Linked DNA regions of Homo sapiens: region 2 is linked to region 1. The links come from fine-mapping of genetic effects on gene expression. A gene starts in region 1. The other region holds a variant in brackets. All regions are shown on one strand. Distances are from middle to middle.

Region 1 (14,864 bases):
TAAGAAGAAAATAGCAACACTTCTTTTTAAATGAAAAGAAAGTACTTTTAGATTGAGATCCTGGAGCAGTTTAGTGCAAGGCCTGGAGAGAACTATGATTATCTTGAGCAGGGGTCAGCAAACCTTTTCTGTAAGAGGCCAGACAGCCACTATTTTAGGCTTTGCGGGCCATCGTCTCTGTCGCCACTCTGCCACTCTGCCTTTGCAGCACAAAAGCACCCACAGGCAAGATGTAAATGAATGAGTTTGGCCTCACACCAGTAAAACTTTACTATGAACACTAACATTTGAATTTTATAAAATGTTTAAGGGTCACAAAACTTTATTTTCTTCTTTTGACTTTTTACCGACTGCTTAAAAATGTAAAAATCATTCTTAGCTCATGGGCCATACAAAAACTGTCGGGACTTGGCCAAGAGCCATGGTTTGCCAACCCCTAGCCTTGAGCATCCAGTGCCTGTGTAGTGTTTGAATCCAGCATCCATTTCTTTGCGAGGTAGTTGTTCTCCTCCTAATTGACAGGGCTGAGGCATTCCAGGATTTCCTTGCCCATCTCAGCATGGCAGGGACCAGGTACCCAGCCATCAGCTGGGGCAAGCCCCTGGCTCTACAGTTTGGAGGAACAGGAGGCTGAGCCCCTCTTGGGACCCCAGCACACAGCTCACCTTGTTAGCAGGACAGGCAAAAGTCGGAGCCTCAGACCAGCAGCCTCAGAGGGGCCTTTGGAAATCCCCTGGTCTGCACCCTCATGTTTCAGGCAAAGAAGGCAAGACTCAGAAAGGTGAGCGATCTGCCCGAGGCCACTGAGGGTGACAGGGCAGAGCTGGGACCACACTTTGGGCTTCTGACTTTGTGCAGGGTTGGAAGGGACTGCATGGGCCTGCGTAGAGATGGCACTCCCTTTATTGGTCACCACAGCCAAGAAAGTCACAGCATCCCCAAGGGCCACCTTCCTTGGGAAGGAGCCATGCCAGGTTTGGCACCCACACAGAACATGGCACCCAGCCCAGCCACGGCAGGGGATGCTGCCAGCTGGGCTCCACGGCAGGATCAGGGAGGGGCTCTGTGACCCCTTTCCTGGGCTCATCCCATGTTGCAGGCAGAGTTTGGGAGCCAGTGCTGCTTTGTCAAGAGTGATGCCCTCTAGCATAACACCTACCGCCCACCTGCTTCCAGGCAGTGGGTCCTGCCAGGATGTGGGAAGGACAGCCCTGTCACCTCCTGGGCTGGTCACCCCGCAGCCCAGGGTGCTGGGTGGCTGGGGCCAGAGAAGAGAAGAAGGTCTGGTTCCTGAGGAGACTCCCCAGGCAGAAAAGGGCAGGCTTCTTTAGGGAAGCAAGGTGTGAGGGCAGTAATCATTCTGGAGCTCTGAATTTCCCTCGATAATGATAAGATGGGGAACAGTGTTCAGAGTGAGGGAGGGTAGAAATTTTTTTTTTTTTTTTGAGACAAAGTCTTGCTCTGTCACCCAGTCTGGAGTGCAGTGGTACAATCCTGGCTCACTGCAACCTCTGCCTCCCTTGTTCAAGCGATTCTCGTGCCTCAGCCTCTGGAGTAGCTGGGATTACAGGTGCCTGCCACCATGCCTGGCTAATTTTTGTATTTTTAGTAGAGATGGGGTTTCGCCATGTTGGCCAGGCTGGTCTTGAACTCCTGACCTCAGGTGATCCACCTACCTCGGCCTCCCAAAGTTCTGGGATTACAGGTGTGAGCCTCTGTGCCTGGCCAGAAACATTTTAAGAATAGAGTTCTCTTCCCAATTTGGGGGCTGATCCCTGATGTTTGCAGGGACCCTGATTTCAGAAAAAAATATCAAGTGGGGCCAAAGGCACTGAGAACTACCAAATGTAGCCCATTAACTCTGCCACCACCCCTTGATAATGACATCAGGTAAAGCAAAGAGCTACTAGGTGGACATTATCTCACTGGAGTCCTCGCAATCACATGAGATAATAGTATTATCCTCCTATTTTATAAATGAGGAAACTGAAACCTGGGTGAGCAAATTACTTAACCTAAGGCAACCAGTTACTGAGTGGAAGAGGCAGAATCTGAACTGACCCCAAAGTCCATAAATTGCCTCCACCCATGGTGGACAGGAGACATACACTCAACATATAAATAATGATGAGTGCACCAGCCAGCCATTATTGGGTCATCTTGTCTATCCCGACTCCACCATTTCTAGGGAAGACTTTTATTTAATGGTGGGGGTAGGGAGGCTCAGAGGGTGGGACCATTATCAAGAGCTCCAGGAAAGAGGATCTCATCATAGTCCTTTCAAAAGTTCTGGCCCATGTCTCCCAGAGCAAGGTGTCCAGTCTCTTCAGGGTTACTCATGCTGTCAGGGAGCTTTGCTTCAAGACCCGTTTTTTGTTTTGTTTTGTTTTGTTTCTCGCCCAGGCTGGAGTGCAGTGGTGCGACCTCGGCTCACTGCAACCTCCACCTCCTGGGTTCAAGCGATCCTCCTACCTCAGCCTCCCGAGTAGCTGGGATTACAGGCACACGCCACCATGCCTAGCTAATTTTTGTATTTTTAGGAGAAACAGGGTTTCATCATGTTGGCCAGGCTGGTCTCAAACTCCTGGCCTCAAGTGATCCACCCGCCTTGGCCTTCCAAAGTGCTGGGATTACAGGCATGAGCCACCACACCCGGCCTAAGACCCTTTTCAATTTTTTTTTTGACAAGTTCTTGTTCTGTTGCCCAGGCTGGAGTGCAGTGATGCAATCATGGATCACTGCAGCCTCAACCTCCTAGGCTCAAGCGATCCTCCCCTCTCAGCCTCCCGAGTAGCTGGGACTACAGGCGCGTGCCACCACACCTGGCTAATTTTTGTATTTTTTTAGAGATGGGGTCTTGCCATGTTGCCCAGTCTGGTTTCGACCTCCTGGGCTCAAGCAATCCGCCCACCTCCCTTTTCAGTTTAAAACCAAACCTCACACTTGCCTCACTACCCCTCCTCCTCTGCAGATGTAGCTGTGGAGATTCTAGGAGCAGATGGGCTCTCTTTCAGACAGGAGGTCTGGCGGAGATGCGCCCACGGCTTTTCCTCTTCCAGACTTGCTGCTGAACCACTGGCCAGCTCCAGCCAGGCCCAGCTACCAGCTCTGTAGTGATCCTGGATCCCAGACCCTTGGCCTGAGCTGTTGTGAGCCCAGCCTGTGTGTGCATGTGCATGCAGCTGTGTGTGTGTAAGCAGCTGTGGGAGCCAGGACAAGATTAACCTTGGTCTGCTCCCACCCCCTGGATGTGGGAAAGTGCCCACTCAGCAGGGAATGCCTGGAGGGCAAAGGTGAAAAGTCCAGGGAAGGGGACGTAAGGGGTTATGGTGGGACACAGAGCCGAGGAAGAGAAATGTGACTTATTGCCAAAGGTGGGCTAATCAGGTGGGCCTGGAACCAGGCCAGCCACTCACCCTGAACAACAGAGCAGAACAGGGACTGCAATTAATTAAGTACCAGGGGAGGGTCCTCCTACCTCAGGGAAAGAAGGCGCTGCCAGAGGGCCCTCAGAGCAAGAGACTGCTGCCTCTCCAGCTCCCAGTGCCTGCCTCATTCATAACTGCCAGAAGGTAGGGCCCCCACAGCACAGATTCCTGGCCCCTCCTGGAAGATTTCCATCCAACCCATTCCCCTACCACCACCACCATTCTCTTACACAGAGCCCTCCTCCCTAACCTGGAAGAGCAGTAAAGATTCTGTCTAACTAAGGGCTTGGCCTGATGGGGCTGGGAAAATCTACCTTGGTCTCTAGACCAGCCCTGGTGCAATCACCAGGAAATTCCCTTTCCAAACAAGCACCACCAACCACTATAGCTACCAGTTATTTAGTCTCTGCTACATGCCAGGCACTGTGCATTATTTTTTTTTTTTTTTTTTTTTTTTTTTTTTGAGACGGAGTCTCGCTCTGTCGCCCAGGCTGGAGTACAGCGGTGCAATCTCGGCTCACTACAACCTCCGCCTCCCGGGTTCACGCCATTCTCCTGCCTCAGCCTCCCGAGTAGCTACAGGCACCTGCCACCACGCCTGACTAATTTTGTGCTTTTTTTTTTTTTTCAGTAGAGATGGGGTTTCACCATGTTAGCCAGGATGGTCTCGATCTCCTGACCTCGTGATCCGTCCACCTCGGCCTCCCAAAGTGCTGGGATTACAGGCGTGAGCCACCGCACCCAGCCTAAATCTTATAACAGCCCTCTATTATGATCCTCATTTTACAGATGAGGGAACGGATGCTGGGAGAAATTCACGAGTGTGCTAGTGAGGGGAAGGTCACATAGCTACTATATGCTGGAGCTGGATTCCACCAAGGCCAGAAGTTTGCCCTCCCCTTTAGTTCTCAAGCTCAGTTAGAGAAGAACAGAAGGAATCAGAGGACAGGTAGATGGAGATGCTGGACAAAAGTCCCAACAGGGTGATCCCAGAAAGTAGAGGCTTGGTTAGGGTAGGAACCGGGAAGAGTCAAGCCGGGCTCTGCCCTACAGTGTAGGACGCATTCCCGAGTGCGGGACGGCCCAAGTAGGCAGAGGACAGAGTCCGAGTCTGTAGAGGAAGCAAATGCACCCTGAAAGGCAGCTCCATGTCCTCTAGACCTGAGCGGGGGTTTGCAGGGCTGGCAACCTGATCCCACGAGATCTCAGACCAAGAACCTATTTGCTCCTCAGATCTGGTGCCCTCTCTCCTGTGCCCCATGGAGAAGCCTGGCTCTGCCTAGTGCAGGACAGACAGATGGGAGCCTCAATATTTGGAGCATCACCCCCATTCTTTCTTCTCCTGAGGACTGACGCAGACCAGAGAACTCCAGAGTGGGCCGGAACCTCCCCACAATGGGGCAGGGGTTAACAGCAGGGGCTTGGGGTCAGACGGAAGTGGGCTGGATCCCACCTCTGTGTGACCTTGGAAAAGTTGGTCTCTCAGAGACTCAGTTTCTTCACCTGTAAAATGGGGATGATAATAATACCTACTTCATAAAGTTGTGACGCACTGCTTGGCGCACAGTAGATATTCAACAAATGGTGGCCACTAAGGCTTGTCTACTCTGCCTCTGGCACCCCCGATAAGTTTGGGAAGAACTTCTTCTGGCACGCGTGGAGAGCTTCTTCCATTCTCCTGGCAGGGTATGGGGAGAGTCCTGGGGACCCAGTGGGGAGAGTCCTGGGAACCCAATGGTCAGGTACACCCCAGATTAAGGGTGGGGGAGGGGTCAGCCCCACAGCCTCCTCAGCTGCACAAGAGGTGGCTGGGAAAGGGTAACCCGAGATAGCAGCTTTGCTGTGGCAAGGTGACCCTCTCTCTGGAACGCCTTCAGGATGCAAACCCGGACCTGGAGCCAGTGTCGCCCTGTACTCCACCGACCCTCAGCACCCTCAGCACCGTTTTCCCAGGCCCCTCCCAAGGCCAGGCTAAAGGCAGGGGATCTCTGAGGACGTGCCAGTCCACCAGGCGCTCCAGGCATCCTCTCAGGCCCGTGTCCAGGAATGTGCTGCATGCCCATGCCCGGGTGGGGAATGCCACGCGAACATGCCGAAGCTCACTGGGTGCTGACACAGGAGGGGCAAGCCGGTGGTGTTAGTGAGTCACAGGGCCCAGGCTACAGCTGGGGAACTGCCGAGGGCTGGGCTAGGGGTGGGGAAGAAGGGGAGACAGTAGCAGATAGCGCGGAAGAGGTTCCAGGGCCTCTCACTCCCACAGTGTCAATCCTCCCACCCCGACTGCCGGGAGGTGCCCAGAGAGAATGAAGAGAGGCAGGGCTGGTGCCTAGGAGGGTGCTGACCCTGCAGCACAGAAAACCCCTCACTGTTTCTGCAGCCCAACTCCCACCCAGCACAAGGTCTGCAGACACCTTCAGGGAATCCCCGCCCCCCACAGGGCGAAAACAGAGGCCTCCAGTCCAGACCCGATTTTGGATTTCAGATTCCTGATGGTGTCCCTCAACTACAGCAGAATCCTCAAGGCACATCTCCTTAGCCCAACAGGTCACCGCCCACTCCCCCCGGCCCCACCCAGCCTCCTTTCCCTCTGCTGCATTAACCCTCTGTCGCCTGTTGATGAGGGGTGGAGGGGGGCACTGCCCCTTTGGTCTTCCGGGGTGGAAAGAGAGAAGCAGCAGCATTCCCCAGACCCCTGCCTCCCCCAGAACTGGGACCTGCAGGGCTTCACGTGTCCTTCCACGTTCTTCCCAGGGCTCCGGCCTCCCACCCCCTGCCTGCCGCTCTGGAAAGTTCACCAGAGCCCAGGAAGCCCTTCAAGGCAGCGATGTGGCCCCACACTCTCGGGTCCTTTGGTCCCTGGAGACTCCTGACCCTTGCCCTTCCCAGAATGAAGGGAGCTTAGAAAGCGCCTGGTTCCGGACTGGGTGGAAAACTTTGCTTTGTAGGGTTCAGACGGGAGCCCAGGGGCCAAAGTGATCCCAGATGGAGACTCCCTAAGGGGGCGCGGGGTCTGAGATTGCAAAATAACCCTCCCTCTCAAGCACCTGGAACTTACGAGTGGCCTTTCGAGGGCACCCCCCACCCCTCAACACACAACACAGTATCACACAGATCACGCCTCGTGATCTCTGCTCTCCCCTCGCCGCTCCGGTATTTCCCTCCAACCTCTCGCCTCAGGGCAAAAGCAAAACTGCGCCTTTAAGAGCCGTTCCGCTTACCTTTGCTCCTTATACCCGGCGCCGCGGTGCCCGCTCCTCCGACCTCCCCCTTCCTCCCAGGCGCACCGCCCGCGGGACTCACAGCGCGTGTCCTGGGGGCCGCGGTGCGCCCGCTCCCTCCCGGGCACGGGGCAGCTTCCCCTGCTCCGGAAAGGTGAGCAGTTCCCCAGAGAAGCTGCAACCTGAGCTGGCCGAGGAGGAGGTAGAAGGGGAGGGGAAGGGAGGGAGTGGAGGAAGGTGGGGAAGAGGAGGGAGGAGGAGGAGGAGGAGGAGGAGGAAGGAAAATGCCCGGCCCCCGCCAGAGTTTTTCACATGTACAAGTTGACTCCGCCCCCGGCCCTCCCGCCCTGCCCACAGCCGCTACCAATCCCCAGGGCTCCCTCTGCCCGGGTGCCCACCCCTTTCTCCCACTCTGGGAACCAGGGTCCAAGTGCCTCTTCCTGTTTCGTTTCTAAAACCGGCCCTGAGAGCCTTGGCTAGGGGATGAGGCCTTCTGGACTGGATCACCCCAGGACACCAAGGCGCCAGGGGTACACTGAGAGTGCCTGCCTGTCTCTAAAAGCGGTGCTCCTACCTCTCCTAGGTACCTCCCTGTACCTGGCGCCCTAGGAACGAATGTGCATGGACAGATTTTGGTGGTCATTTTCTTGACAATAGTAGCCCTCGGGCTCCCCTTCTACCCTATCCAGTGGGACTTGTCACTTACCTTTCCGGACAAAGTTCCCACCTCTCCAGGACCTGAATGAAGCCCTTGTTACCAGCCATCATTCACATTTCCCTCCCCGAAGGATAATTCAACTTGTCCTTTTGGAATTAAACTCCACAGGATATTTGAGAATCATCCAAGAAGGGTTACAGAATGGCTAGTTCAGCTAGTGGCACTCTCATTTTACAGAAGGGGAAACTGAGGCCCAGCAAAGCAATTGAACTGGCCTAAAGTGCCACAAGAGTTCATGGCGAGCCATGATTAGAACTCAGGCCAATGGCCATTGCACCCACATCATCTGACTTCAAGGATCAAAAAAAAAAACAAAACAAAAATCTGGGGATGGGGGTGAAGGGCACAGTGCCCCACCGCCAGGCCCCTCTCATCTCTGCTTCCTCCTGAGGGCTGTGAGGAGAGGAGGTGTGCCTTGGCTCTATGGCACCTCATCAAGGCAGTCTGTGTCCCCTGCCCTACCAGAGGGCTTGGCTGCTGCAGTCTGGGGTCTCCCACAGGGAAAGTCTCCTTAGGAGGGGGTGCTCCACAGTGTACATGTGCTTCTACCTGAACCCTTTCCCTGGGGACTGTGAGTTGTTGAGAATAGAACAGTTTCCTTCTGGAAGACATGGGCCTGAGGTCCCACTGTCAGCTGGAGACAGGAGAATGAAGGAAGACACTGGGCCCATGCATGAAAGTGACCTGTGGGTAGTTGACATCTCACAGAGGGCCTCCCAACTCTTTTTTTTTTTTTTACCTCGCTTTCTCTGCCAAGGCATGCAGATTTCCTGGGCACAGCACTTCCTAAAAATGAAACTGCCAAGTGTTGTCGGGGTGCATGGATCCAGAGCCTTTAGGTGTGCAGCAACCTCCTGGCTCTGTAGTCCAGTGGATGGTGAGAAGCCTGGGGAGCAGGAGGCCATAAAGAGGTTTGGAAGGGGCAGGGAGGGAAAGGGAGAAGGACTATGGCCAAGGAACTGTTTACTGGCGGATTAGAGAGAGTGGGGCCAAAGGGTAGAATTTCAAGGAACTAGGGGGGTGAAGTCAAGAGGTCTCCACAAACACTTTCTCAACATCTCTTATGTGCCAAATGATAGCCAGGGCTCTGGGCACATAAGATGAGTATAACCCAGTCCCTGCCTTCAAGAAGCTCTTGGTGTAATGCGGCAGGGAAGCAAACAGTTAGGATGCTATAGGAGGAGGCTTAGTGTTACGGATGCCTGGGAGGAGCTATTCTGCTTGAGGTGAGGGTTACAGGATGAGGGGACAAGAGAGAGGAGGAAGGATTTTCCCTGTTTTTTCCAGGAGGGGTAATCCCTTGTGCAGAGTGCAGGGGTGACAGAATATGGACCCACAGTTCCATGAGGTCAGAACTTAAAGTCTGGGGTGGAGGTGACACTGTAGAGGCAGGCAGGTGCTGGGTCCTGAAGACCCCCAACGTGGAGGCTGATCCTAGTGGAAAATGAGAATGAGCTTAGACCACACAGCGGCAGCAGGGAGGAGAGGAGGGAACTGATTTGAGAGATAGGTAGGAGACAGGGTCATGGAGCCTTGTGACTATTGGATTCTAGAAGATAAGGGAGCCAACAGTGTCAAGATTAGAAGCACTGATGTGATAGGCTGAGTGGGACCTTGGAGCTTCTTAAGTGAGCCTTGATTCCCAGCACCTCCTTAGATTGCTCTGTGAACTTGGGCAAGCGAACTAAGCTTTCTGAGGCCATCTGTAGAACAAAGTTGCTAAAATCAATCTTGTATGGTTGTTGTACATATTAGGGTAATGTATGCTAAGGGCCTGGCATAGGACTTGGCTCATAATGGAGAACTCAATAGATAGTAAATATAATTACCATCATTCATGCATTCAACAAACATTTATTGAACACCTGCTATGTGACAAGGACTATACTGGATCCTTGCATTGGATAGATGATTTTAAGTCTCAGTTCCTATTCTCATGTAGTTCACTGTTCAGGTGGAGAAAGATATGCAGAGGCAGTCACCTACCAAGGCAATATGGGCTGAGCAGAGGAAGAAGCCCTTAACTCTGCCCAAGAGAATTTGGGACAGCTCCACAGAGGAGAGATGACAGCTGAAATGATGTAGGGCCAGCCACCTGCTCAGAGCCTGTCACATCACCCCCTGCCCCACCACCACCACATGGGATTGCTTCAGAATCTCTGAAAGCTTCAGTTTTGAAGCATCGTCTTGGTTCTCAGGGTTGAAGGAAGAGGATGAACTGCAGGTGGGCATCTATATGGAGCCCAGAGAATGGCACAACAAGCTTTGGCCACCCCAGGAAAGGGCAAGTGCAGATGGGAGGTGGGAGGGGGGAACCAGATAAGAGTGACCCTGGGCAGGGCTTACTAGCTGGATAGGGAGTCCATGATACCCAGTCATACACATCAGTGGCCTGTGTATGTGTGCTCTTTGGGTCAGCCTAATTTTTCTGCTTCTCATCTGTACCATTTCAAAAATTCCCTCTGAACCCCTTGGTGTCCCCTGCCCTCCGATGCCAACTTTCTTTCTGTGCATCTTGCAATAAGCCAAACACAGTAGAAGCAGCACTACCTAGGACTTCCACTAAGGAGGGGCTCCTTCCCTGCTGCCTTACCAAGCAATACTTTGAGCTTTAAAGCCATGTAAACTGTGTGACCTTGGGCAGTTACTGACATATCTGACTTCCTTTCCTGTCCATAACATGGAGATGGTAATAGTCCCTCTCTCATGGGGCTGTTGTGAGGTTTCAATAGGATGTAAACTTGGCACCCAATCAATGCTGTTTCTCTTTTCTGCAGCCCATTAACTCCCTCCTTGCAGAGGGACAGACAACAGACCCTCAGCTGGGGGTTTCCCTGGCACCCCAGCCCCTGGGGCCCATCCCCTGTGGGTCCTGCAGCCCCCTTCCCCTCTGCTAGTCTAATGGATCTGTGGCATCCCCGGGAGGCCCTGGTCACCCTAGCCATGTAGCAGTGTAATGCTGGCAGGCCTGAGCAGCATGACAATGGTGGCCCCAGCAGCAGCTCAGCCCACTGCCCACTCTGCTCCTGTCTCCTCCTCGCTGCCAGTGACATGCCACTGCTCTGCAGATAGGACAGGCGTCCCTGGGTGCCTGAGGGCTGAGCAGGGAAGCTGGAAACAGCTCTCCCTCGCAGACTGTGTGGGCAGTGCATTTGAATAGCATCTGAAAAACCAAAGTTCAAGCCCGCCCCACTTTCCCCTGGGAGGCACAGCATCCAGACAGGGAGAGTTCAGCCAACAGAGAATCTCTTTTCTGCACATTGTCAGGGGCTCCCTTCCCCTCTGGCCCTATATCCGAGCAGGCACAGTCTCTGAAAGCACTGCAGGGACATTTGGGAGGCCGGAGACTTGACTCCGCCCCTAAGGTGCAGAAATCACTTTGTTTCTCTGGGCCTCTGTTTTCCTCTATAGCAAAAGGGGAATAGTGTGAATACCTATCTTTCAGGATGGGAGAACTAAATGCAAAGGTGACTGTGAAAGTGCTTTGCACACTGTAGAACGACCTGCATGTGTATGAGATCATTAGTGTTTGTCCAGAGGGCCCTTTTTAGGGTTCCAGGAATCAAGTAAAGACATGAGAAATGAGAAGCTAAGTGAGAACAGAGAAACTCACCTCAACAGCCTGCCCTTGGCAGGCAGGAGGGAGATTGGCAGCAGAGACCTGAAGATGGACTGACCCATTATGGCCTAGCTAGTTAGAGGTCTGTGAGTCATTGGGACAGCAGGACTTGGCTAGACTGAGCCAATTCTTACTCCTCCTCTGGCTAAACCTAGGCCATTGTTTTCCAGTGATTTATGAGAAGTGGGGATGATTAGGAGAAAAATATCATTTACCTGTAGCAGTGTGATTCCAGCAGAGAGCCTGGGACTTTCTGCTTTATCACTTCACCAAGTGTCATATCCTCCCTTCGCTATTTGTGGTGAAAGTACAGGCATGTGTGCATTTATGCATGTGTTTACACATGTGCATGCACATGCACGCACACACACACACCATTCTAGACTTCAGATGAGGCAACAGCTGCATCCCCAGAGGGTTCTAGGACAGGGTGGACCCATAAATAGAGTCAGCCAATCACAGACCAGTTGACCCTAGCAACTATCAAACCAATTAGAACCCCACCACTACATCCAGCGGTGCCTTCCAAACTTACACACACACACACACACACACACACCCCACCCCCTTCAGGTTGATGCATTGCCATGACAACAGAATCACCACACAAAGCTGGTGTAAATGGGAAAGTGGTCCTTAGGAACAAGACTAGAAGAGTCTTTGGGGTGAGGCTGCAGGCCACACTGGCTGGGGTGGGCCACTGAGAGGACCCGTATGCAGGGTGGGAGAGGAGAGACAGCTGGTTTACCTGGGCTTTCTAAGCCCATTCTTTACCCCTGGGTCTCTGTTTGCTCACCTAGAGAATGGGGTCAAAGACTCCTACTTGGATTATAGTGAAATGTAATGAAATTATTTCTCAACTAATAGATAGGGATAGGAACCGTAGATTTTCTTTTCAGGAAACCTTAAGAATTTTGAGACTTTTGGACCAAGAGAGTTGATTGATCCCCAGGAAGACCTAAAACCAAACCCTAAAACCCAGCTCATGAGTTCATTGGACAGTTGGATCTTAGTTCAGTTTGAAAGTAGTTACTCAATATCTGCCATGGGCCAAGCACAGGTGCTGATTTCAGCTGTAGCCAGGTAGCCCTTGAGGAGCCAGTTGAACATCTTGGTGAAGACTTTTAGAAATGCTCCAGAGGCCTGTTGGATGGGCCTGGAGACAAGTGCTCTGGAGGTGGCTGACCGGGAAAGACCTTGCTCAGGGCCAAGGAAGAAGGCCATGGTTTGAACCCGCAGGCCCCACTGGCCCACTGGCCTTTAGCTTCCAGGCCCCACACCCCTCCTTCAGACAGATGCCAGAGAGGCCTTAACCTTAGCCACTGGCCAATCTGCCAGTGGCTCCTCCTCTGCCCAGTTGCTTCCAGTAGCTCCCCAACAGGAGGCCTTTGAGTCCCCAACCCCTCTTTCAGAATCTGATGAAATCTGAGGAATCAAAACACATATGCACAACATTTTCTGTTCATTTTCATGAGCTATGGGCCTCCTTGTGCTCATTCACAGACTCCCTTATGGCATATGGATCCCCTGCCTCCCTCGTCAGCTCATCCTGATTTTCTCCCTCTCTTGTTGTGTCCAGCCACATCAAACTATGAGTACTTCTCTTGTACACACCACTATGTTTCACTGCTTCATGCCTTGGCACATGTTCCCATCTATAGGAGAGGTTCCCTCCTTCACCACTTACCTAGTAAACTCCTATTCATTCTTCAAAATCCAGCTCAAGAGTCACTGCCTCCTTGACACACACAGGTTCAGTGTTGTCTACACAGGCTTGACCACTCCCCAGTCGGAAGCCTGTCTGTTCGACATACTTCTCTCACTGTGTGCCTCCCAGTGCTTGGGGGCTCCATGTCTTCCTCCTTTACTGGGCTGAGAGCTTCCCGTGGCCAGAGACTACATCTTTAGCCTTTGTATGCCCAGGACTAGTATATATCAGGTGCTCACCGGGGTCTAGGACAGGGGTCCCCAACTCCTGGCTGCCTGTTAGGAACTGGGCCACACAGCAGGAGGTGAGCAGCAGGCAAGCAAGCAAAGCTTCATCTGTATTTACAGCCGCTCCCAGTCACTCACATTCCCACCTGAGCTCTGCCTTCTATCATATCAGTGGCAGCATTAGATTCTCATAGGAGCACGAAGCCTGTTGTGAACTGCACATGTGAGGGATCTACGTTGCATGCTCCTTATGAGAATCTAATGCCTGATGATCTGTCACTGTCTCCCATCACCCCCAGATGGGACCATCTAGTTACGGGAAAACAAGCTCAGGGCTCCCATTGATTCTACATGATGGTGAGTTGTATAATTATTTCATTGTATATTACAAGGTAATAATAATAGAAATAGAGTGCACACTAAATGTAATGCGCTTTAATCATCCTGAAACCATCTCCCTGCCTGGTCGGTGAAAAAAACCGTTTTCCATGAAACTGGTCCCTGGCGCCAAAAAGGTTAGGCGCCACTGGTCTACAGAACCGACACAGCAGAACTGAATTGGCAGAGGAAGCAAAGCTGATGAAGGAAGAAGAGAACAAGCAGACCAGAAGTTAGGACAGGAGCAAGGGGAAGAGAGGTGTTGGAAAGGAAAGGGGAGTCAGGAGGTGCCCACAGAGCAAGACTGAAAGACATCATTGAATTTGGCAACTAGGAAGCCATTGGTAGGGTGGCCATAGGCCCAGTTTGCCTGGGATTCTCCCAGTTCTAGCATTGAAAGTCCTGGGCAGACAGAGATGGTTGGTAGCCCTAGATTGGTGACTTTAACAAGGGCAATTCTGGAGATGGGAGTAGGGCAGAGGCCTGAATGGTGGGCTGAGGGATGAATGGAAGGCGGGAGAGGGAGACTGGGAGAATTGGTGGCTGCTGAGCTGTTTGGCTGAGCTGAAAGGAGGCAGGAGCTAAGGACCGTGCCGGTCTCCTGGCCCTTCCCTCCTGCCCACTGCCAACCCCCTCCCTGGAGAGAAAGCAAACACAGCTGCCGTCAGGAACACTGTGTACACCCTTAATGAATTCTTCTTGAAAGGCTCCAAGCCCACCACCTGGGTTGCCCAACTAGTCCCGCACCACCCCAATCCCCACTGGACCAGCGGTTCTCCGTTGTCTGACTTCCTGCAGTAAGTATTCAGGGGTTTTATCCAGTTGGCACAATGGATCCTGCTTGGACTGGGGATGGCTCTTCTCTTCTTTTGAACTTATTTACAAGTCTCATTTGTCTTTGCATATTAATAGATTGTCTGACTAATTCGATTCTGAACTTTTGTCTTGCTCTGTTGCTCAGGCTGGAGTGCAGTGGCGTGATCTCAGCTCGCTGCAACCTCTGTCTCCTGGGTTCAAGCAATTCTTGTGTCTTGGCCTCCCAAGTAGCTGGGATTATAGGCACCCACCACCACACCCAGCTAATTTTTGTATTTTTAGTAGAGATGGGGTTTCACCATGTTGCCCAAGCTGGTCTTGAACTTCTGACCTCAGGTGATCCACCTGCCTTGGCCTCCCAAAGTGCTAGGATTACAGGCATGAGCACCTTGCCGCCAGACCTCTGAACTTCTTGAAGGCAGGGATCATGCCCATCCTCACTGCCTCCCTTCTTTCCCTCTCTTTCCCCTTTCCTTCCTTCAGTAAACACTAATTAAGTGGTGTTTGAATTCAGTAGTTGTGGTGACTGCCATACTTCCTGCCCTCAGGCACCTCACAGTCTGGATTCCAGCCTCCTAAATAGGGGAGTTTTATATCCCTGAGCAGCAGAAGAGGGTCCTTGCAGGGCTTTAGTGAGTCTGAAAACCCATAACATTATATGCTAACATTGTGAGTGTGTATGTGTGTGTTATGTGAGATAGAGAAGCAGAGACTGTATGTTTCTAAAGAGAGAATCTCAGCTGGGTGCAGTG
Region 2 (14,803 bases), 27 kb before region 1:
ATAGGGTCAGGCCAGGTGCAGATCTGGCTGCTGGCTCCTCAGGAACCTGGCAAGACATACCAGAGGCAGTGATGCCCCTGGAATTCCCAAGTGGTTTCCCAGTCTGGGGGACAAAGCACTTACTACCTCAAGAGGCAGCGGATCCACTTTGAGTGACGCCTGACCCAGTGCCTTTTATCATAAATTCTCTTTCCATGTTTACTTCCCCAGCTACGTTTAAAGCTTCCGTGGAGAAAAAACTCTGGGCTGAGGTCATTTTAAAAGTCTTGCAAAATCTTTTAAGTAGGATGTTCTTAATACATTCTTGCTGATTGAGATCTTATCAAGAGTGAAGAATGCAAGAAATAAAAGCATATGATCTTCCACTTTACTTCCAGGAGGGAGGAAGCTGGAATTCCTGCTTGTGGAGAAGTGGGTGGGAGTGTGCAGAGTGAGGATGTGAAGCTCACTCACCTAGCACTCTGGGTCAGGCCCCTCCTGAATATTCATTCTCTTTTTGTCTTTTTTTTTTTTTTTTTTTTTTTGAGACAGGGTCTCACTCTGTCACCCAGGCTGGAGTGCAGTGGCACGATCTCAGCTCACTGCATCCTCCACCTCCTGGGTTCAAACAATTCTCCTGTCTCAGCCTCCCAAGTAGCTGGGATTACAGGGGTCCACCACCACGCCCGGCTAATTTTTGTATTTTTAATAGAGATGGGGCTTCACCATGTTGGCCAGGCTGGTCTCGAACTCCTGGCCTCAAGTGATTCACCCGCCTCGGCCTCCAAAAGGGCTGGGATTACAGGCATGAGACACTGCGCCCGGCCTGAATATTCATTCTTAAATCCTCACAACCTTGTGAAATAGGTGTTATCACTATCTCCGTTTTACAGAGAGGGAAACTGAGGCACAGAGCAGTTAAGGAACATTCCCAAGGTGACACAGCTTGCAAGCCGTAGAGCTGGGATTTGAATCCAAGTCTGTGATTTTGGAGCCTGTGTGTTATTTCCCTGGTTGTTCAAGATTCCTTCTTCCCAGGAACCTAGGACTTAGCCAATCTCTCCTCCAGGGAAAACATGAGGACATTAAAACATTTTATTGTTCTTGAAAAAAAAAAAAACCTTAGGAAATTTTAATAGAATGACTAATGGACAACTGTCTTTCCCCCAAGTAGCTGAGACCTTAAGAAGCTGAGAGGAAGAAAAGATTATCCTAGCCGCCTCTGAGATGCTGAGCTCCTGGGAGTGGGGTCTAAGTCAGGGTCAAGTTTGTATCCTGGGTACTGAAAACAGAGCCTGGCACAGAGTCTGGAACCATCTGATGGATAATGAGTAAATTAGGGAGGGAGGAGCTCTGGAGGAGACAGGAAGATGAGGAACTGGGCTAGAAGTTTCTAGCCCAGAAAGGGGCAAGCAGGAGTGCTGACCACATGCAGGAGGGCAGCGGGGATCCTCCCTGCCACGCCCTGTCCATGCTTCAGCTCTCCATGTTTGCGTCACATCACCAGGAAGGGCCCAGGGATGCAGGAGCAAGGGTTGATGCTTGGCATTGAGAACACATCTCAGGGACTGGAGGCTTGGGTTGATTCAAGGGAGAGGCTGCAAAATCTCCTTCCTTAGACAAGAGGCTGGGTCAAATTATTGATCTCTGGGTTTCAGTATTACTCAGGGCCGCCCACTGAGTAATACCTAGTGCCCCCAAGGGGCACTGAGAGAAGTAAAAAGAAGCAGGAAGAAGGAAGAGGAGAAAACAAGGGAGGAAGCGGGAGTGGCCACGTGGCACCTGCAATCTCATCAGAGCTGCCCTTGGCCCCACCCGTCCTGTCTAGGAGAATTGGCACACACTCCCTGGAGTCTGGGCACTGACCATCAGCAATGATGCCAGCCACCGGGCCTCCACAGCTAGGGCGGGAGCAGGGCCCTGGTGCCCAATGATGCTTTTAGTTGGCAGATGGTGGGAGGTTCTGAGGGTCCGGAAGAGGGGCTGAGTCATCACTCAGGGGGCACTTGGTGGGGTGGGGGATAGTGACTTTTGCCCAACCCCCAGGTGTCAACTGGCTGCCTGTCAGACAATGCTTTTAGGTGACCAGAAGGCAAGGATTTCCCAGTCCCTGGAAACCAGATGCCCATCCTCCATGCAAACAAGTGAGGTGGAGTGTCCGTGCCAGTGCCCACACCTGCCCGGAGGCAGCTGCTCAGGTAGGCTGACCTGGGTTGTAATTGACAGTCCACCTTACTCCCTGTGTGGCCATGCAGGTCACCTAACCCTAGAGCCTCTGTGGCCCTCCCTGGGATTAGGATGACAGTCCCTCTCGCAGCAACACAGGAGAGCAGGTGCTTCCCTTCTCCCTTCCCACCACACCTGCTGCTGCTCTACCACCACCTGGGGGATCCTTCCTCTCCCTGCCCCATCACCCTCCTTATAGGGGCTGACATCTCCTATTTGACCCTCTGAGCCTTTAAAAACAGAGGCCAGTGGCTTCCCATCTCAGAATAAAATCCAGAACCCGTACCACAGCCCGCAAGACCCCGCACGAGTGAGCGGTTCTCAACCCTGGATACATGTTAGGGTCATCTGAATCAATCTGAGCTGGGGCCGGATGGCAGTGGATCTTAAGCACTTCCCAGGTGGATCTAATGGGCAGAGCCACTGCCCCACATGATACATCCCTCCTGCCATGCTGCCTGGCTCACTGTGCCCTGGCCTCACTGCCTCTCACTCATTCTCAAGTACGTTCACCTCAGGGCCTTTGTTGGAATACTCTGTCCCTGGCTGTCCACCTGGCCCCCTTACACAACATAGCTCACTTTTTTTTTTTTTTTTTTTTTTTTTGGTACAGGGTCTCACTCCATTGCCCAGGCTGGATGGTAGTGGCATGATCACTGCTCACTGCGGCTCGACCTGGGTTCAAGTGATCCTCCTACCTCAGCCTCCTGAGTAGCTGAGACTACAGGCATGAGCCGTCACACCCAGCTAATTTTTTTTTAAATAGAGACGGGGTCTCGCTATGTTGCCCAGGCTGATCTCAAACCCTTGGGCTCAAGCGATCTGCCTGCCTTGGCATCCCAAAGTGCCAGAATTACAGGTGTGAGCCACCACGCCCAGCCCATAGCTCATTTTTGATGGAGAGGTCCCTCCCTGACCAGGCAGTTCCCCTCCCTATGCCATCACATTCTTCCCCCTCAAACCTGCCCCTGCCTTATTTTGTCTCATCACACTTATGACCCCTTGATATGCCTGTTGGTTTGGATAACGTCTTATACCCCCCACTGGAACATAAGCTCTATGAGAGTAGGGCTTGGCCATCTTGTTCACGGCTGTATCCTCAGTGCCTAGCACAGCACCGGGTGCACAGTGGGTTCTTGAGAAAACCTGTTGTAATCAAGGCCATCTCTGCCGGCAGGTCTGAGCTTCTGGAAGGTAGGGGTGGAATGTCATGCATCTTGGTGTCCCTGGCATCTAGCACAGGGCCAGGCATGGAGGAGGCTGTGGCTAATTCATGGTGCTGATGATTTGCTCTGGAGATAGAGGGGCTCACTGGGGTGCTGTAGAGTGTCACGGCCAAAAGCAAGGGTCTGAGCAGTGATAGAGGTGGGGAGATGGCCCAAAGGAGGCTGGGATGCTTCAAGAAGGGAGGAAAGGAGCAGGCCTGCAACAGTGTCTGACACTTGGCTGACCCAGGGGGCCTAGCAGGGTAGAGGAGTGGTGGCCTATTAGACATCAGCCCTGACCACTGGACCCAGAGAGTAGGGGCAGGGTGAATGGGAGCCCACAGGAGGGTGGGGCAGGGGAGAGCGAGCTCCAGGTCCCACCGGGGTGCAAGATGATGTGGGCAGTGCCAAGCACAGGAGCTGATATCACCCCCACCCTGTAGAGTTCAGCAAATAGGACATTTTGTCTGAAGCTGCAGGGCTGCTACATGCCTCAAATGCCCCTGCCAAGTGGCCATGGTGGAGGGGACGGCATCTGCACCCTGGATATTCCTGACCTGTCCCAGAAGCAGGCAGGTGACAAGTGAGGCCTGAGGGGGAATGACTTGTAAAAGGCTGCTTTGGGCCGGGGATTCCAGCAGAATGGGGCAGGCTCCTGTTTTTGAGAGTCACCGGCATAAGGAAATGATTGCAGGGGTGCCCAGGAAACCGAGGGCTCCAGGACACTGGGTTGGGTTGTAGCTCAGCCTGGTCCCTGGGAGCCCAGTGGCAGCTCATGGCCAAAATCACTCAGCCCCTCTTCACACCCGAACCCAGCTTCCTTCTCCGGAGCCATCACTTTTTGAGCACCAATCATATCCAAGGCCTGGTGTAGGCCTGTCCAGCTGAGTTCCACACCCCCAGGCTGGCCGGCACTCCCAGCCCTGGCAGCTTTCTAGGGCAGAAGCTCAGCATGCCTGATGTCAGAAGCCCCTAGGTGTGTGCCTCCTCAGCAGGGCCACAGCTGCAGCAGCAAGAACGGCTGCCCCCAGCGACTCTGGGCCACCTCTGCCTGCCACAAGAGTTGCCTTGCAAAGTGCTCCTCAAGGCAGCATCTGCCCATATCCTTCCTTGTGTGTTTTCCTCCCTCCAGGGCCTCTGCACTATCTCCACCTCACCCTCCCCACGCCTCCCACTCCTTAAAGACCACAGGGCTGGGGGGCAGACACCTGGGATTCTAATTTGGTATGTGACCCCAGGCTACCCCTGGGAGGCTCCTGTCCTCATCTGCAAAGTGGGGAGAAAGGGGGGTTTCTATGAGGATTCAGTGAGACAATGCCTGGGCACAGGGCTGCCTGGCACCCAGCAGGGAACTTAATAAATGTCTGGTTTCCAATTCCCACCAATGCATTTCCCAGCCCTTCTCCTCCCCTCAAGCACTAATTGTCTGAGTTACGACCCTACTTTGGTGTCTGGCTGCCTACAAGCAAAGTGAGGAGGTCTCCTTCGGTAGAACTGGTGCTGAGCTGAGAATGGAGCCCTGGCCCGCCCCTTACTTCCAGAGCCTTGGGAGACATCATCAACCTCAGCATCAGCTTCCTCCTCTGGAAAGCAGCCACCCTCTTAAGTAACTGCAAACCATGCCGGCAAACTGCAAAGTGCTTAAGGCCAGGCATGAGGACAGGTCAGGAGGCAGGGTTTCGGGCCTGGCATTCTCAGAGTGGTCTCGGGAAGAACAAACCTGGACACCGAACTGGACAACAGCAGGACTCTGAGCACTTTGGGAGCTGTGTATGATGTGTTGCGGGGGTGGGTTGTGTCCAGATCAAAGGTGGGGAGGCGGTCTAGGCAGCAGCAGGAGGTGTATTCGAGGTCTGCAGCAATTCTTGCAGAGCCTGAATTACAGTGAGGCCCACACCCTCGTCCTGCTGCCCTGGCCTTGGCCATCTCCCATGTCAACCTCATCTTGATCTTGCCTACCTCCCTCCCCAGAAGCCAGGGGGCCATTTGGCATCAGGAACACAGGGATTAGCTGCACGGCCAGACCCCAGACCCCCGCCCAGGGGTCCCTCTTTGCTCTCCTGGCCAGCCCCACCCCACAGGCACCAACTTGGGCCAATGCCAGGCCACAGGTCAGACTCCCAGGCCTGGGACTCCTCTGCCCACCCACAACAACCACTGATGCTCCTCAGCAAGAGCCAACTTCTGGCTCTGAACGCAGCAGCACCCAGGATACAGCAAGGTGAATGCTAGGCACTCGTCCCACAGCCTGGGGTGTAGGGGAGGTCAGAGATACACACAAATCAAACTCTCTCCTCACTATATATATATATATATATATATATATATACACACACACACACACACACACACACACACACACATACACACAAGCACACCCCACCCACACTCATTAGGCCTGGAGGGGGGACTTCAGTTCTCCATCTTTGGCATCAATCTATCAAAGTCAGCTTTTCTGTACGAGACTGCTCGCTCCTTTCTGTACATGAATTAAATATATTATCTGTCTCTGCACTGAGTCACACGACGTTCACAGTACCGTGGGGAGGAGTGGAGGGTGGGGGCCTGAGGTGGGCAGGGCAGGGGGCCTGGGTAGAAAGGCGAGGCTGGCCTCCCCTTGGCCTGTGCCATTCAGGATCAGCCCAGTGTTGAGGAGACCTGGGGGATACAGAGGGGAGCCTTCTTCAGGGGCCCCGGCCACCCAGGCTTCCAGCCCCCGGAGGCAAGCCTCTCAGCATCAGAGCCTGCTCCTGTTCCACGTTCCTCTCCCTCAGATGGTGGCATCTACACCTCTCCCTGTCGTGGCCGCCCTCTGGGGTGGCAGGGGCTGGGGGAAGCTGGTATTGGGATCAGGTGGACAGAGCCACAAGGGCTGGGAAGGAAGGATGGGGAGGCTGTGCGAGCCTTCGGGAGCTGAGGTCAGCCTGGCACCAGTGTCAGGGTGACTCTGCATATCTGGGTGCCGTCCCCAGGACCCTGACCAGGCCTGGCTAATCAGAGCCCTGGGATGATAAGGTAAGCAGGAGCCACCTCGGGAAGGGGTGGACAGGCAGGAGCCGGTCACAGCTCCAAGGGCAGTGAGTACGGTACCACCTGCCAATTTAAGGCAACTCCATTCAGACTGATGAGCTGGGCGGGGGCTGGCTGAGGTGGCAGGCGTGCAACTGGCGGTCCCAGGCCACCTCTGGACACAGCTGGGCATCCAAGCATGCCAGCAAAGCGTATGCCGGCACTGCTCAGCCATGGTTCAAGCCAGAGGGTGTCGGGGAATGAGGGTAGGGTAGGGCTGATGGAAAGAGTGGGGACTACTATTCCTTCTGTTGCTGTGGGACACCTGCCAGGTGGGGTAGGCTTTGGCACACATGTGGGTACCTAGGATTCCAGGGTCCCAGAGAACATGCCATGTCTCTTCTTGCTCTCAGAGGGGAAAAAGATGAAACGTGTGTGGGCTCCAAGGGGCCAGAAAGGGGGACTACCAAACTGGCACTAGGCAGGTCCTGGGGGAGGAGGGTAGAGCCTGTATCCAGGGCAGAGTGCCCATCCTGGCGCCTTGATTCTGTCATCCGTGTGCATCCCACGCAGGTGCCCAAACACCAGGGTGGGAGAGGGTACGAGGACCGCCCCCCCCTCATGTCCTCTCAGGGAAGCAGCTTATGCCAGCCCCAACGTGGGTAAAGGAGGGGTTGGTATGCAGGTGAGGGCTACTGGGGAGGCACACGGGAAGCACAAAGAAGAAACAGCCGTGGCCAGAAGGGCTGCCAAGCGGTCTTCCAGGCTGGCTGTCAGCCCTCGTTCTTCAGTCCTCCGAGGGCCACACAGGCTCCATCCTACCCGAATTTGTGCTCCATGTGATCTCTTGTCCCTTGGCCACAGCAAGGTGGGCGTGGCTCAGAAGATGCTCTGCCGCCTGTTCTTCCCTCGTCCTGGAGAATGGAGAAGAGGTGGGGCTGCAGGGAGGAGGCTGGGCTGACGGGTACCCCAGGTCAGCAGGGACAGTCGCTGTCCCCCAGAGCTGCTCTGACAGAGCAAGCAAGGGCATGCAAACAGGAGCCGGTCTGACCTGGTGTCAAATCCCATCTCTGCTACTTACTAGCTGCATGAACTTGTGACTTAACCTCCCAGAGCCTCAGTTTCATTGACTATGAAATGGGGAATATTAATAGTACTAGCTTCAAGGGGTATTTTAAGGATTAAAGAAGACGATGCATGGAAAGCATTTGTCAATGTCCAAGGCCATTGACTGTTCTAGGAACAAAGTACCGTTCTCCCAGGATGGAATCTGATTAGAGAGCTCAGGGTTTGCAGAGAGAATGCACCAGAGACAGCATGCCTCTTTGCCAGGGCTACTGTCAAATGCAATGTCCTGTCTGGGGTGGAGGGTTGAGGAGGGAAGAGCTGGACGAGGAAGTCTAGGCAGGAGAAACCAACCCCTTCTCTGCTCCCCAAAGAGTCCAAAGGGAAGCCAGTGGTGGGGGGACCATGGGAGTCCCCACTGGGGAGGGGTCGCCTGCTCTGGCTTCCACTAACAAGGGGAGGGGTCCAGGAGAGCACAAGCCCCTACCTGGCTGCTGGAAGGCCAAGCCTCGGTAGCCTGGGTCCTTCTGGAGCTGGATCTCCTTCAGGGAGAAGATGGAGGCAGCTGGGGGAGAGAAGTGCATAGTCTGGAGAGGGCTGCGTGGAGCTGGCCTCCAGTAAGGACTGGCCCAGAAGGACCAACTGAGCCCTCGAGGCAGCGTCTCATTTCCACTGTTTGCCCCCTCAATTTGGAATGAGAACCCCAGCAGGGGAGGCAAGGTGCCCGGGGCTGCTCTGCTGGGGCTGGGGCCTCTGGCCTCTTTGTTCTGGTTCTTCTGCCCACACTCACCAACCCCTTTCCTTGGTTCTGGGTGGCCCTGCTCCCGGACCCCCAGTACTCACTGTCTTCAAGCTGGTGCACACGCTCTCCCAGAGACCGGAAGTAGGAGTGACTCAGGGCAGCCTCTGCTGACATGCGACTCTTGGATTCATACTGAAAGGCACAGGGTGGGGCTATTGGGCCCGGCTGGGGGGCTGCAAACCCTCTGGGCAGCAGGACTCCAGTGCTGGTTAGAGCACCAAGGTGGGTGAGGCTTGAGGCTAACAGGAGAAGCCCCAGGTCAGCCTCCAGCCCCTACCACAAACCCAACCTCAGGCCATCTCAAGACTCAGGGGAAGGCTCCTCGGTCTCCAGCCACCAGGAAAAACCAGAAATGAAACTTCAGGAGAGTGACCTTCTCTTGGGATAGAAATACAGATGCAAACCAACCATGATCAGATGGAGAACATCCGTAACAGGAAGCGTAGTGCCGATAACAACCCTTCATCGTGTGCCTTACAAGACAGGCACCACACTAAGTGTGTCCCGTCATCTCAATGTATCCTCACGGCCATCTTATAAAATAGGTATTAATCCCACTTTGCAGCTGAGGAAACTGAGGCATGGAGGAGCTCTGTAACTTGCCCAGAGCTACACAGCTAAGTAACGGGTTTGGGCTCGCAGTGCACAGACTCCAGAGGATGTGTATGGAGGCCACCCCTTGGCCTTGGGGGTGGAGAGTACAGGGGAGATGTTTCAAAGACGTGTAAGCACACGAGCCACAGAAGTTGGGGCGTAGGCCCGGCATGGGGCACAGGGACCTGGCTCTTTGGCTGCCTCTCCCTGGGCCCCGCCGGGAGGACACTCACCAGGAGCAGGCTGCTCAGGAGGTGGATGCCATCCGTATCCAACCTGCAAGGAGAAGGCGCGGACACAGGCTGTGCCTGATTGGGGATGGGAGAGCCAGGGCCGCAGCAGGAGGGGCGGCGGGCGCAGGGGCTACCTGGGCGCGTGGTTGATGAGCGGCTGCGGGAGGTAGCAGGGGAAGCTGTAGGTGCGGAACTCAGAGAAGGCGGTCACGCCGGGCCACGTCTCTTCTGTGGGGGTCCCTGGGGAGACGAGAGAGGGTGGGGAGGGCCTGCGTGAGGCCCAGGGCCAAGGCCGACTTGAAAGGGATGCAATGTATGAGGTGGGAGCAAAGATGGCCGAGGCCACAGGGGGTCCCCGCCCGGGAGAGAGGCGGCCGAGCCGCTCCTCCCCGTCCCGCTCCGCGCCTGGGCTGGAGGAGTTCCGGCGCCCCCTGGTGGTGAGAGGGACGGAGCAGCGGGAGACTGACCGAGGAGGCGAAAGATGAGGTGCAGCTCCTCCTTGACTGTGGAGCCCGGGAAGAGGGGCCTCCCTGTGGCCATCTCGTAGTGGATGCAGCCCACGCCCCTGCGAGGAGCAAGGGGTAGGGTCGGCATCAGGCAGGGGCGGCCGCCCTTCCTAGGGCTGCTCCACCAGGGCACCAATGACGACCTGCCACAGGCGGCTGCAGGGATCGTGGCTCTGGCGGCGGAGGGGTGGCCCAGGGCAGTGGAGGCTCCTAGAACTGCCCAGCCCCCACTACAGCCCCTCTCTGGGGGGCTTCCCTGGGCTCGGGAAAGCTGCGACTTTCACTCTGTGAGGAAAGTCCCCTTTCACTCTGTGAGGTTTGGGTCTGTGCAGCCAGCGCCCATGTGGCAATTCTCTCAGCAGTGTTGTCTCAAACTCTCTCCACTGTGTGCCCCACTGGAAGAGAAGTACATAAATCCATT[C/G]TCCTGGGGAACCTTGGGGCGGAGTCACAGCAGCCATTCATAACCACCGGCGGCTTGGCTTGCAATTTGGGCTGATTTTTCATTTTACACCAAATCATACACTTGTTCATTTTAACATAAAAATAGTACTTCTCTTTCAAAATTTTCACTGGGACTGATGCTTGGGGAAGATTCATCGTATTTACTATAGGGGCCCTCCTGGACCCTCTGGGTCTCTGGTAACCCCCCACAGGCCTCTGGGGGAGGATTTCAAATGCACAGGCTTGGGGGTCTATTTAAGCCAGGGAAACCCTAACCTATTATATTTCAGACCTAATTTTTTAACATCCATTTCAGCAGGATGTCACAAGGCTTTTAGGCAAAGGAAGTTAGGCAGTTCTTCCCCGAGGCCCTTGGGGAAGCAAAGGAGAGTCTGGAGGTGTGGCCAGGCCTGTCCTCCCCTCCTCGGTCCCCACAGTGCTCACTCACCACATATCAATGGGGGTGGAGTACTCTGTGGATCCCAGCAGCACATCGGGGGGCCTGTACCACAGGGTCACCACCTCATTGGAGTAAGTCTTTGTGGGCACTGACTTGGCCCTGGCCAGTCCTGGGGGCAGACATGTCACTGGACCTCTGTCCACAGGTGCTGTGGGGTTGACTGCTATGCCCTCCCCCACTGCACCCACACCCTGAGGCACCCCAGTAGCGTCAGACCCCCACCCTAGCCCCAGCCTCACCAAAGTCGGCCAGCTTCAGCTCCCCCCTCTCGTTGATGAGCAGGTTCTGGGGCTTCAGGTCCCGGTGCAGGATCTTGCGGTGGTGACAGTAGGCGAGGCCCCGGAGCAGCTGGAACATGAAAATCTGGGGGAGGGGGAAGAGAAATGTGGGGTGGAAGGTGGCCCTGAGCCTCTGCTCCAAGGCTGGGACCAGGATGGGGGCAGGGGCTTGGCAGTGAGGTCAGCACAAGCCCCTCATTCTCCTGCACACCCTGCAGCCCCCATCCTGGACCCCACCCACACCAGGGAATCCCATCCAGAGGGGAGGACAGCAGGGGTGCAGAGGACGCAGTGAGTGTGGGGGAGGCCAGCGAAGTCTCAGTCAGGAGCACGGGGGTCAGGATGCCCGCCTATGTGGAGACATATGTGCTTGATCCCTTTTTTTTTTTTTTTTCTTTTAGAGTCAGGGTTTTACTCTGTCACCCAGGCTGGAGTGCAGTGGTGTGATCATGGCTCACTGCAGCCTCAACCTCCCGGGCTCAAGTGGCCCTCCTGCCTCAGCCTCTCAAGCAGCTGGGACTATGGGTGCACGCTACTGTGCCCGGCTAATTTTTCAATTTTTAGTAGAGATGAGGTCTTGCCATGTTGCCCAGGCTGGTCTCAAACTCCTGGGCTCAAGCCATCTTCCTGCCTTGGCCTCCCAGTGCTGGGATTACAGGCGTGGGCCACCATGCCCAGCCTTGATTCTTTAACAAACACCAGGAGAGGTCATTCATAACCCCGAGCTTCCCCAGAAGCCTCCCTGCATTTTGGCAGGTAGCTCACACTCCCATTTGACAGACTGGGAAACTGATGTTCAGAGTTGAGAGTGGGTTTTATACCAACAGCTAGACAGTGGCAGACAGTGTGTGTCTGTTCTTGGGGTAAAGCGCTCAACCCAGTTCCTGGACTCGTTGATGGCATTGCCCTCTCCCTCTTTCCTACGTGGGAAGGTCTGAGCCACCTCAGCAGCCGGATCCCTGGTGGTGAGAGTGGGTCCCCACACTGGGCTTCTGGACAGGTGGCTGCCAAGATGGGGGGACCCTGCCCCCGAGGCCTCACCTTGACGTTGTGCATGCTCATGAGGTTCCCACAGTGGTCCAGATACTGCTTCAGGTCACTGTCCTGGAACACAGAGCGTGGCTCAGTCCTGCCCCACGCTGACCCCTGGCCAGAAGCCCAGACACAGGCTGAGGAGAGGAAGCCCCTCCCTGGGAAGGGCCCACGCCCACTAGTGGGACAGGTCCCTGGCTCGAGCCACCCGTAAGCCTGAGCTCTTGGCCCACTCCTGCACGGGAGCATCTGAAAATCTGATTCCAGAACAAGGCCTGGGTCGCCCTCATCCCACTACTCCCACTCCCTCAGCTTCCCACTCCCCTACCCACACCCCGTTTCCACCACAAGAGGGAGAGGCGGCCAGCCCCAGCCGGACTCTCACCAGGTACTCAAACACCAGGGTGAGGGACCGATCTGTGTGGATGAGGTCATGCAGGGTCACAATATTGGCGTGCTTCAGGTTCTTCAGCAGAGACACTGTGAGGAGACAGATCCACCTGGGTCCCTAGGACCCCATGTGTCCCCATACCCTCTTTTCTTGGGGTCAGCGCCAGGAGTCCCATTCCAGCAATGATCCTCTACCCCCAGCTCCCACAAGGGTGCAGGCTGGTGAACCCCTCCTCCTGAAGCCCCCAGGGGAGCGTGGGAGCCTAGGATGCTGTACCCTCTCGGATGGCAGTGCAGGGCGCTCCCTCCTCGTGCTCCAGCCGGATCTCTTTCAGGGCCACAAGGTTCTCCGTCAGTTTGCTGCGCCCTTTGAAGACTGTGGCATAGGTGCCCTGGGATGGAGGGCCACAGCGGCCCCAGGCGCATTCAGGTGCTGCTGGCCTCTGTCCAGTGCCTCCCCATTTGTGCCTCTGCCTGGGCTACGACTGGGGCCTGAGTGCCCTTCCTCCCTTTACTGACATGCTGTTTCCTCCAAAGCCTACTTCCTCCAGGAAGCATCCCTAATGACTCCCCAGTCGGAGTGAATCCGTCCTTCCTCTAAGCCCCAGCACGCCGCGTGCCCGTCTATGATAACACCAGGTTTTTTCTTCCTTATACGATGCTGATGTTTACACAGAGGTCACCTCTTTGGGCTCCTGGAGGGAAAGGGCTGTGTGTTCCCTCTCTCTATAAACCTTCACCCACCCCAGGCCTCTGCACAGTGACAACAAAAATAGCTAAGTGACACAGCACTTCCTATGTGCCAGGCATTGTCTGTGTGCCGTACATAAGCTGATTACAGTAACCTGCCCAATCCTCACAATAACCCTATGTGATAGGACAATTACTGTCTCATTGGACAGAGGAAGAAACTGAGGCACACAGAGAGGTCATGTAACTTGCCAAAGGTCACAGAGCTAGTAAATGGTGGAGCTAGGTTTTGAACCCAGGCAAGAAGGACTTGCAGAAAAAAAAAAGACTGGATTCTGCCCAGGGCCATGGCTACTCTATCCTCACGCCCTCCTTCAGGATCTGAGCTCACTTCAATCCCTGCCAAAGCCTGGGCCAGAGCGCACAGCCAAGACTGTGCACCTCTATGGGGCAGGGGCCAGGAGAGGGCCAACCAGAGAGGGCCGACCAGAGAGGGCCGACTAGGGAGGTCTGCCCCTCCTCCAAGCCATCCTGCCTGGCTATTCGGAGAAGACCAAACCCAGCGTCTTACCTCTCCCAGTTTGTCCAGTTTCACGTATGTTTCCAGTTTCCCAAAGCCAATGTCTGACTGAGAGGGAGAGACATAGAATGCCGTGAGCTTGAAGCCCTTAGCAGCTCCACAGACATGACGCCTCCCCCAACTCCAGCCTCTGGGAGGGAAGGGATGAGACTCCATGGTGGAAGGGGCTCCTTTTCCCTTTATCCCTGTGATAAAGGACAGAGCTCGTGAAAGTGTGAGTTTCTTCCTCCCAGGACAGCCAAGAGTGTAGAGCCCAGAGCTGTGGCACCTGGGATTGTTGCACATCTTGACTACCTGTGTCTCCGACTGAGACCACGAGCTCCTCCAGAGTGAGTGCTGCCTTTTTTCCCATTGTACCTTGAGTGTCCAGTTCAGAATCCACCTCTCTGACTGTGTCTCTCATCAGCGCACTTCTAGCTCAGGTGTATCCAACCCTTAACAAGACGGATTCCTGGACCCCCTAGCCGGAGAGGCTGATTCTATAGGTGTCTGGAGGTAGAGTCTGTGTTTTGTAAGATGTCCCAAACAGCTCTGATAGGCAGTTAGGACTGGAAGGCACATGCCAGCTGGCCTATTGATCTTAACCATGTGGAGACCGTGGGACCCACTGTGGGCTTAGAGTCCCATTCCAGCCCAAGTGAGACCCATCTAGGAAATGGATGTTGATGTAGGAGGACGAGCTAGTTGAATGCACTCAAGCCAGCAGGTGGCACCAGAGGCCCAGGAATCTTCCTCGAAATCCCATCTAGGCCTCAGCTGGGACTGATATGCCCATGCTGGGGAGGGCATATCACCCCACCTTGTGTCCTCTGACCCTCTTGGGACTCACCAGGGAGGCCCGGCGGGACATGCGGCTGAGCGGCTTGGGCAGATCTGGGCTCTCCATCTGTAGCTTCTGTAGGAATTCCTGGGGCAGGCGGATATCCATGGGCAGAGAGAGCCTCTTGCTGACGTCCTGTGGTGACAGGGATGAGATGGGGACACCACTGTTGGTTTCAGGGTAGCTAGGGCTGTGGGGCTCCAGACTTTCACTCTGGACCTAGCGTTCCCTGCAGAACAACCATTCAGAGCCCAATCACAGGCTGTGACCCCAGGCTCACAGCTGCTCCCAGTGTGTGCTCAAGACATACACGTGAACACCCGGGGCTGCTGTGTGACCTTAGCACAGCCAGGTCACTCTCTGCCTCTCTGGGCCACAGTATCACCATCTGTGCAACATCAGTCTCATGCCCTTACAGGCACCGATTCTGTAAGTATATTTTTTCATATACTTGGGCATATGTGTGTGGATCAAATAGTCAAATTGTCTAGCC

Alleles and levels. Alleles are on the strand shown, and positions count from the first base shown. SD is a standard deviation of normalised expression in the study named.
In carriers of allele C in region 2, the expression in cerebral cortex of the gene that starts at base 6,856 in region 1 tends to be higher than with G alone (small effect, 0.22 SD a copy in GTEx).

What was found. PIP is the estimated chance that this variant, and not a neighbour inherited with it, causes the effect.
Region 2: its variant is fine-mapped to the expression of CDK18 in cerebral cortex (GTEx, PIP 0.95).

The regions. Positions count from the first base shown.
Region 1 is chr1:205,496,661-205,511,524 of GRCh38, reverse strand. CDK18 (cyclin dependent kinase 18) reads right to left here and starts at 6,856. Exons shown (of 16, transcript NM_212502.3): 1 at 6,729-6,856. RefSeq lists enhancers at 875-1,422, 4,279-4,932.
Region 2 is chr1:205,523,874-205,538,676 of GRCh38, reverse strand. It overlaps CDK18 (cyclin dependent kinase 18), which reads right to left. Exons shown (of 16, transcript NM_212502.3): 4 at 14,320-14,445; 5 at 13,482-13,538; 6 at 12,498-12,612; 7 at 12,216-12,310; 8 at 11,840-11,902; 9 at 10,760-10,883; 10 at 10,509-10,629; 11 at 9,581-9,678; 12 at 9,248-9,353; 13 at 9,114-9,156; 14 at 8,328-8,418; 15 at 7,972-8,049; 16 at 5,887-7,333. The coding sequence ends at 7,299. Among named protein-coding and RNA genes, the nearest start is that of CDK18, 27 kb to the right of the region's middle. RefSeq lists an enhancer at 1,739-2,240 and a silencer at 9,425-9,544. The variant C/G (reference allele first, on the strand shown) is at 10,041.